Homo sapiens: one gene and its partner. The protein of the gene in region 1 purifies or fractionates together with the protein of each later gene. This does not show direct contact. Each region holds a gene or a part of one and is shown on either strand. Other genes may lie near its edges.

The links.
Region 2: the proteins of SH2B1 (region 1) and FRS2 purify together in Homo sapiens (co-immunoprecipitation; one study listed by IntAct). This does not show direct contact.

The regions. Positions count from the first base shown.
Region 1 is NC_000016.10:28,866,717-28,870,536, forward strand, and holds part of SH2B1 (SH2B adapter protein 1), read left to right. Parts: coding exon 1-317; intron 318-614; coding exon 615-716; intron 717-2,289; coding exon 2,290-2,381; intron 2,382-2,491; coding exon 2,492-2,667; intron 2,668-3,820. UniProt on the Homo sapiens protein: Adapter protein for several members of the tyrosine kinase receptor family.
Region 2 is NC_000012.12:69,564,273-69,568,092, forward strand, and holds part of FRS2 (fibroblast growth factor receptor substrate 2), read left to right. Parts: exon of another isoform or gene 1-2,368; intron 2,369-3,820. UniProt on the Homo sapiens protein: Adapter protein that links activated FGR and NGF receptors to downstream signaling pathways.

The DNA of each region.
Region 1 (3,820 bases):
CCGTTGGTAGGGGACTGGTCAGTGATGGAACGTCCCCTGGGGAAAGATGGACTCACCGTTTTGAGAGGCTGAGACTCAGTCGGGGAGGGGGCGCCTTGAAGGATGGAGCAGGGATGGTGCAGAGGGAAGAGCTGCTGAGTTTCATGGGGGCTGAGGAGGCAGCCCCTGACCCAGCCGGAGTGGGCCGGGGAGGAGGGGTGGCTGGGCCTCCTTCAGGGGGAGGAGGGCAGCCTCAGTGGCAGAAGTGTCGCCTGCTGCTTCGAAGTGAAGGAGAAGGAGGAGGAGGAAGTCGCCTGGAGTTCTTTGTACCACCCAAGGTGAGGCCCCTTGGAGGGTGGGTGACTGAGAGCAAGTGAGAGAGTGCTCAGAGTGGTCACAGCCCTGCAGATAAGCTCTGGGGTTTACCAGCCCATGGCCCTGGTGTCGCTCACTTTTTGTTGGTAAAGCTGGCTCTTGGCTCTGTGTTAGCAGCTGCGGGCAGGACTGAGAAAGCAGTGTGACTGCCTTTTGTCTAACTTCCCGAGGATGTAGAAGGAAAGATGAATGTCTGGAGGGAGGGGAAGAGTGGTCTTTGGAAACCAAACACCCAGATCTGTTTCTTTCTCCTGACTTAGGCCTCTCGGCCCCGACTCAGCATCCCCTGCTCTTCTATCACAGACGTCCGGACAACCACAGCCCTGGAGATGCCTGACCGGGAGAACACGTTTGTGGTTAAGGTAGGAATTCAACTTCCCAGCCGCCGGCAGTGCTTGTGTTAAGGAGAAAGCCCTCAGCGCATTTAAGCAAGTGGCGTCGCCGAAAGGAGGTATATATATGTGTCCAGTGCCTTGAGAGTGTGTCCCTGGGGCTGCAGCTTTTCTGGGATAGCGGAAGACAGGGAAATGTTCTTACTCTCAAAAACAATGCCTCCACTTGAAAGAGAACTGTGGAGTTTTTGTTGTTGTGGTTGTTTTAGAGAGACAGGGTCTCCCTCTAAGTCAGGAGTGCAGCAACCTGATCATAGCTCACTGTAGCCTCGTGTAGCCTCGAACTCCTGGGCTCAAGTGATCGTCCTGCCTCAGCCCTCTAAGGAGCTGGGACTACAGGCATGTGACACCATGCCTGGCTAATTTTGTTACTTACTTACATTTGAGATAGAGCCTTGCTCTGCCGCACAGGCTGGAGTGCAGCGGCGCGATCTTGGCTCACTGCAACCTCTGCCTCCCAGGTTCAAGCGATTCTTGTGCCTCAGCCTCCTGAGTAGTTGGGATTACAGGCATGCACCACTATGCCCAGCTAATTTTTTGTATGTTTAGCAGAAATGGGTTTTGCCATGTTCGGCAGGCTGGTCTCAAACTGGCCTCAAGTGATCCACCCCACTTGGCCTCCCAAAGTGTTGGGATCACAGGCGTGAGCCACTGTGCCTGGCCTTATTTTATTTTATTATTTATTTATTTTTTTTGAGACAGAGTCTCGCTCTGTCGCCCAGGCTGGAGTGCAGTGGCGCGATCTCGACTCACTGCAAGCTCCACCTCCCGGGTTCATGCCATTTTCCTGCCTCAGCCTCCCGAGTAGCTGGGACTACTGGCGTCCGCCACCACGCCCGGATAATTTTTTTGTATTTTTAGTAGAGACGGGGTTTCACCAAGTTAGCTAGGATGGTCTCGATCTCCTGACCTCGTGATTTGCCCGCCTCAGCCTCCCAAAGTGCTGGGATTATAGGCGTGAGCCACTGCGCCTGGCCTATTTTATTTTATTTTATTTTTATTTTTTATATTTTTGAGACGGCATTTTACTCTGTCTCCCAGGCTGGAGTTGAAGTGGCATGATCTTGGCTCACTGCAACCTCCGCCTCCCGGGTTCAAGCGATTCTCCTGTCTCAGCCTCTCGAGTAGCTGGGACTACAGGCGCCTGCCACCACGCCTGGCTAATTTTTGTTTTTAGTAGAGACAGGGTTTCACCACATTGGTCATGTTGGTCTCGAACTCTTGACCTTGTGATCCACCCTCCTTGGCCTCTCAAAGTGCTGGGATTACAGGTGTGAGCCATCGTACCCGGCCTCGCCTTATTTTATTTTTCAATTTTTTTAGAGACAGGTTCTCACTATGTTGCCCAGACTGGTCCAACTCCTGGGCTCAAGTGATCCTCCAGAGGTGCTGGGATTACAGGTGTGAGCCTCTGTACCCGGCCTCCAGAGAGAATTCGAATGCATCTTGTTTGTAGACAGCCTGCATACATTGTTCTCATTAGGCATGGATTAAGCCTCCTCCCTGCCCCTGCCCCAGCTGAGGCGTCGTCTCATCTCTGTAGGTGGAAGGTCCATCCGAGTATATCATGGAGACAGTGGATGCCCAGCATGTGAAGGCCTGGGTGTCTGACATCCAAGAATGCCTGAGCCCAGGGTGAGAAGCCTGACTTCTGTCGCTAAGGGACATAGAGTGGGGTTGGGGAGCAGCCTTGCGCCTCTCACCTGGTGACTTTCCTCCCAGCACCATCTTCCCTGTCTCTGCAGACCCTGCCCTGCTACCAGTCCCCGCCCCATGACCCTCCCTCTGGCCCCTGGGACCTCATTCCTTACAAGGGAGAACACAGACAGCCTGGAGCTGTCCTGCCTGAATCACTCGGAGAGTCTACCCAGCCAGGACCTGCTGCTTGGACCCAGCGAGAGCAATGACCGCCTGTCGCAGGGTAAGGGTGGAGCCTTAGAGAGCTCGGAGCCTCGGAACCTGCCATGCGGGGCCCCTGCTGTCAGGCGCCATGCCCTCTCCAGACGCCACTGTGCCCCCATCCCTGTTTTCCAGATGCCCTACCCCAACCCCACCAAATGTTGGTCTTTGATCCCTGAACACAGCCACAGTTTGCTGTTTAGAATAATCATGACCCCACGCAGGCCCCAAGCAAACCTTAGCCAGGCTTCTGCACCCAGCCTCGCCACTTTTTCAGTCAGCGTCCTGCCAGCCACCGCTCTGGCTGGAAATAATGGTGGTTTTCTCCAAGCTTCTGGAACACTTTGTAGAAATCTTTGTTTTGTTCTTACTCTGCATCTCTGTGTCTGTCAGGGGCAATCACGTTTTCTCTTGACTCTGTACTTTTTGGTCTGACCAAACACACATACCCGACCCACACACACAAACACACAAAGATGTGTCACCCAGTCCCAACTCATATTTCTAGATTCGGCCTCCACTATAGCCTTTTCTCCTGACCCTCTGTTCTGAGTTCCAGCTGCACAGTGCCTAGCACACAGGCTGTATTCAGTGAATGAACACATGAATCATGGAATCTTAGATCTAGAGTGGACCTTGCATCTCATCAGATCTTAGTAGCTAAGACCAGGGAGAGGACACCTGAGGGTCACTGAGGAAGACAGGGGCTGCGCCACCCTGTTTCCCAAGCCATGCTGTCTGTGCACCACACGCCTGTCTTCTGAGCACTGCCTGCCTATGACATTTGTGTAGGCAGTGGCCTGCTGTTGGACAGACTTGGAGGATGGCCCTAGTGCATACCTGGCCCTGCTCTGTGTCCCGGGCCAGGATGGGGTAGCTAGGATGCCTGAGATGAGCTCCTTGTTCTCTAGAGGCTTTCAGCTGGGTTGACATCACTCCCTATAGAAAGCTTAGTGTCCCCTGAGCAGCACAAGCAGGAATCACGTTGGGAGCTCAGGAGGAAGAGAGCAGGGGAAGGTGGGAGAGACAGGGACTGCGACGCCGAGGAGAGGAGAGGACATGCCTGGGGACGTGAAGGGCAAGAGCAGAGACCTGCGGGGAGGGCCCAGGATATGGGGACAAATTGGATGGGAAATTGGGTTAAAGTGGAAGAGACATGAATACAAGGTAAGGTA
Region 2 (3,820 bases), on another chromosome or scaffold:
TCTCTCTACTCCTGTATTTAAACACATTTGTATTTCCCCAGAATTTCAACCACAGACCAGTCTTCATACTATCCTTGAGCCAGTGTTCAAGAGCTTAAAATGTGACATGTGTTCTAATGTTTTACCTTCTCCCTCAAACACATACTTATGTACTTAACTATTGCACTTGGACATTTCCCTGGGCTCTCAGTTTAACATATCTGAACAAATCATTATCACTTCCTCTTGAAGACTACAGTTTTTTGTATCTCAGGTAATAGACCCCTGGCACCCTTTGTCTGCCATGCTGGAAACTGCCTCTGTTTTCCATTATGTCAAGTCAGTTCTTTGGTGCCACTGACTTTTCCTCTTAAATGTTCCTTAAATTTATTCTTTTCTTCTTCATTCCTACCATTGCTGCTCTTGTTTTAGGTTTTTATCATATTTCATTTTTTAATAATCTCAAACTGATTTTCTTTCCTCTGAGCTAAACTCCTACTTAAATTTATCATACATATGTTTATTTAAAATGCACTTCTGACCGTCTCACTTTTCTACTTAAAATACATCAGTGGTTTTCCATCATGTGTAGGATAAATTCCTTTCTCTTTGGCATGGCATACAAGGCTTTCATATCACATATTAGGCATTTCATTAATTATTGTTGTATTGAACTCAAACATTCAGTGTGGATAGAGTCCCCAAGTAGGTTGCACTGCCACTCATATATCACTTAATGGTGGAGATTCCTTCTGAGAAATGTGTCATTAGACAGTTTCGTCACTGCGCAAACGTCATAGAGTGTACTTACACAAACCTAAATGGTATAGCCTACTATACACCTAGGATATATGGTATAGCCTATAGCTCCTACTCAACAAATCTGAGCAACATCACTGTACTGAATACTATAGGCAGTTGTAACACAATGGTAAGTATCTGCATTTCTAAACATAGAAAAGGTACAGTAAGAAAACTATAAAAGAGAAAAAATGGTACACTTGTATAAGGCACTTGCCGTGGATGGAGGTTACAGAACTGGAAGTTGCTCTTGGGTGAGTTGGTTAGTGGGTGGTGAGTGAATGTGAAGGCCTAGAATGTTATCGTACACTACTGTAGGCTTTATAAAACTGTACTCTTAGGCTACGCTGTTTGTTTAAATAATTTTTTCTTCAGTAATAAATTAGCTTACTATAACTTTTTTACTTTATAACCTTTTAATTTTTTGAAACTTTTTGACTCTCTTATAATATTTAGCTTAAAACACACACATTCTACAGCAGTACAGAAGTATTTTTTTATATCCTTTAAGATTTTTTTCTGTTTTTAAAATTTTTAATTTTTTTTTAACCTTTAAAACTTCTGTTAAAAACTAAGACAAAGACACAAACACACACATTAGCATGGGCCTATACAGGGTGAAAATCATCCATATCACGGTCTTCTCCTCCTACATGTTGTCCCACTGGAAAGTCTTCAGGGGCAATAACATGGAGCTGTCATCTAGGAAAACTGCACCTTCTTCTGGAATACCTCCTGAAGGACTTGCCTGAGGCTGTTTTACAGTTAATTTTTTTTTTAATAAGTAGAAGGAGTATACTCTGATATAATAGTAAGATACATAGTATAGTAAATACATAAACCAATTACATAGTCATTTATCATTATCAAGTATTACGTACTATACATAATTGAATGTGCTATAGTTTTATACACTGGCAGTGCAGTAGGTTTTTTTTTATACCAGCATTATCTCAAACACATGAATAATGTGTTGCACTGTGATGCTGTGATAGCTATAGTGTCAGTAGCTGACAGGAATTTTTCAGCTCCCTTGTAATCTCAGGGAACCACTGTCATATATGTAGTCTGTTGCCAACCAAACATTTGTTATGTGGCTCATGACTGTATATCCCTGCCAGCACGAGAGGTTCTACCTTAACAGGTAGCTTATGAAGATGCCAAGTGGAAGGATGATTTTCCTGCTCCTTTTGAGAAAAAAAAAAGTTTAAAAACATTCCTTTGGAGCATCATCTTTTGAAGCAAAAGCCATACTGTAGTAATCTTTTAGCTCTTCATATTTCACAAGGAGGTCGGGGAGAACAAATATGTACTTTCAAGAAGACTTTTAAAAAATGTCTCTATCAATTATCCCTTTACTTAAAATTTCTTATATTACTCATCCTATAATTTATTAATATTAAACATTTACTATTTTTTAAAAAATTAAATGTTTATAGAATATGTGCCATGTCTGAGGCAGGAGAATCTCTTGAACCTGGGGGGCGGATATTGCAGTGAGCCGAGATCACGCCATAGCACTCCAGCCTGAGCAACAAGAGCGAAATTCCGTCTTGGGGGATTTAAAAAAAAAAAGAATATGTGCCATGTAAGTTGGTATGCTTAGTGCCCTGGAAAATGAACAAGACAAGATTTCCTGTCTTTAAAGAGATCACAGCAAAGTGGATGGTGCAGAAAGATAAACATTGCAGTAGAGTACGATAAAGGCCACAATAGAGTTATGCCATTCTATTGTGGGAACACTAGAGGCAGGCTATCTTCGAGTTAACTGGAAGATCAAGTCTCAAATCTAGGGAACATGTCCCTAGCTTGTTCAGGCTGCTTTATGGTTGGGCCCCATTTGTCTTCCAGTCTACCCTGTAGTCCAGTCATACTGAACGCCTCACTTTCTCCTGAATGTGGTGTGACACTTCATGACTTTTGTCTGTCTCAGGTGCTTATTTCTCTTTATTTTGCTTAGCATGTTGTTTCTGCTCTTCTTTTAAATCCCAGCTCAATTAGTGCTTCCTGTCCTGCCTAACCCAGAAAGTTAGTTGTTCCCTTTCATGTGCCCACAGTACTCTGCTCATATCCTAATATAAGGTTTATCGCAGTGCATTATCTATTTACATCTCTCTCTCTCTCTTTCTCTCTCTCCCCCTTGATACTCACAGCTCTTCAAAGACAAAGATGGTGACTTATGTGTCCTTGTACTATGATACTTAGCTGGCATATTAGTTAAAGCAAAAATACCAAATATCATGAGTCTTAATTAACTTTACTATTATATGTTATCATATACACTCTTGGTTTATACGCTAGTACACTTTTTCATTTTCTTAATACTTATACCTGCTAGGGATCCTTCACATTTGTTTAATACAGTCCATTTAAATCACAGGTCCTATAGCACCTTCTGTATGCTAGGTATCGTGTTAGGTACTAGGAATGTAAAAATGAGTAAGGTTCATCCTTGCTGACAAGGGGCTCACAATGGAGGAGAAAAGACAGATAAACAGATACCTGCCACAATTTCTACTCAGTACAAAGTGTGATAGATGCTATGATACTAGGAAGCCCAGGGTGCTTTGGGTTAGCATATGCATGACGGTCATACATAATAGTATAACTTGCCTAGTTGCTTGGAGTCAGGGAAAGCATCCTAGAGGAACTGCACTTTGAGTTGAATCTTGAGAAAGGAAAGAAGCAGAAAGGGAGCAGCTTGGAAGGATGTGAGAGACCAGGATGCTCTGGGGAAACTGCAGCTTGTTTATTCTGACAGGACTAAGAATAGGGCTTGAAACAGAAAGCAGGGAGAGTCTAGACTGGATCTGTTAGACAGGGATTACATTGTATCTGATCGGATCTATCATACTGAAGAGTTTATACTGTTAAACTGAAGATAGTGGAGAGCCACTGAATAATTTTCAACAAGCTTCAATCAAATTTATGTTTGTAATGTTTTGTAGCTTCTGTGCTTCCTTCCCTCCTCCTTTTTCATATATTGTCATATTCTATCTGATTATTTCCCTTGTTTGTAAGTGATGCTTTGGAGTTTTCT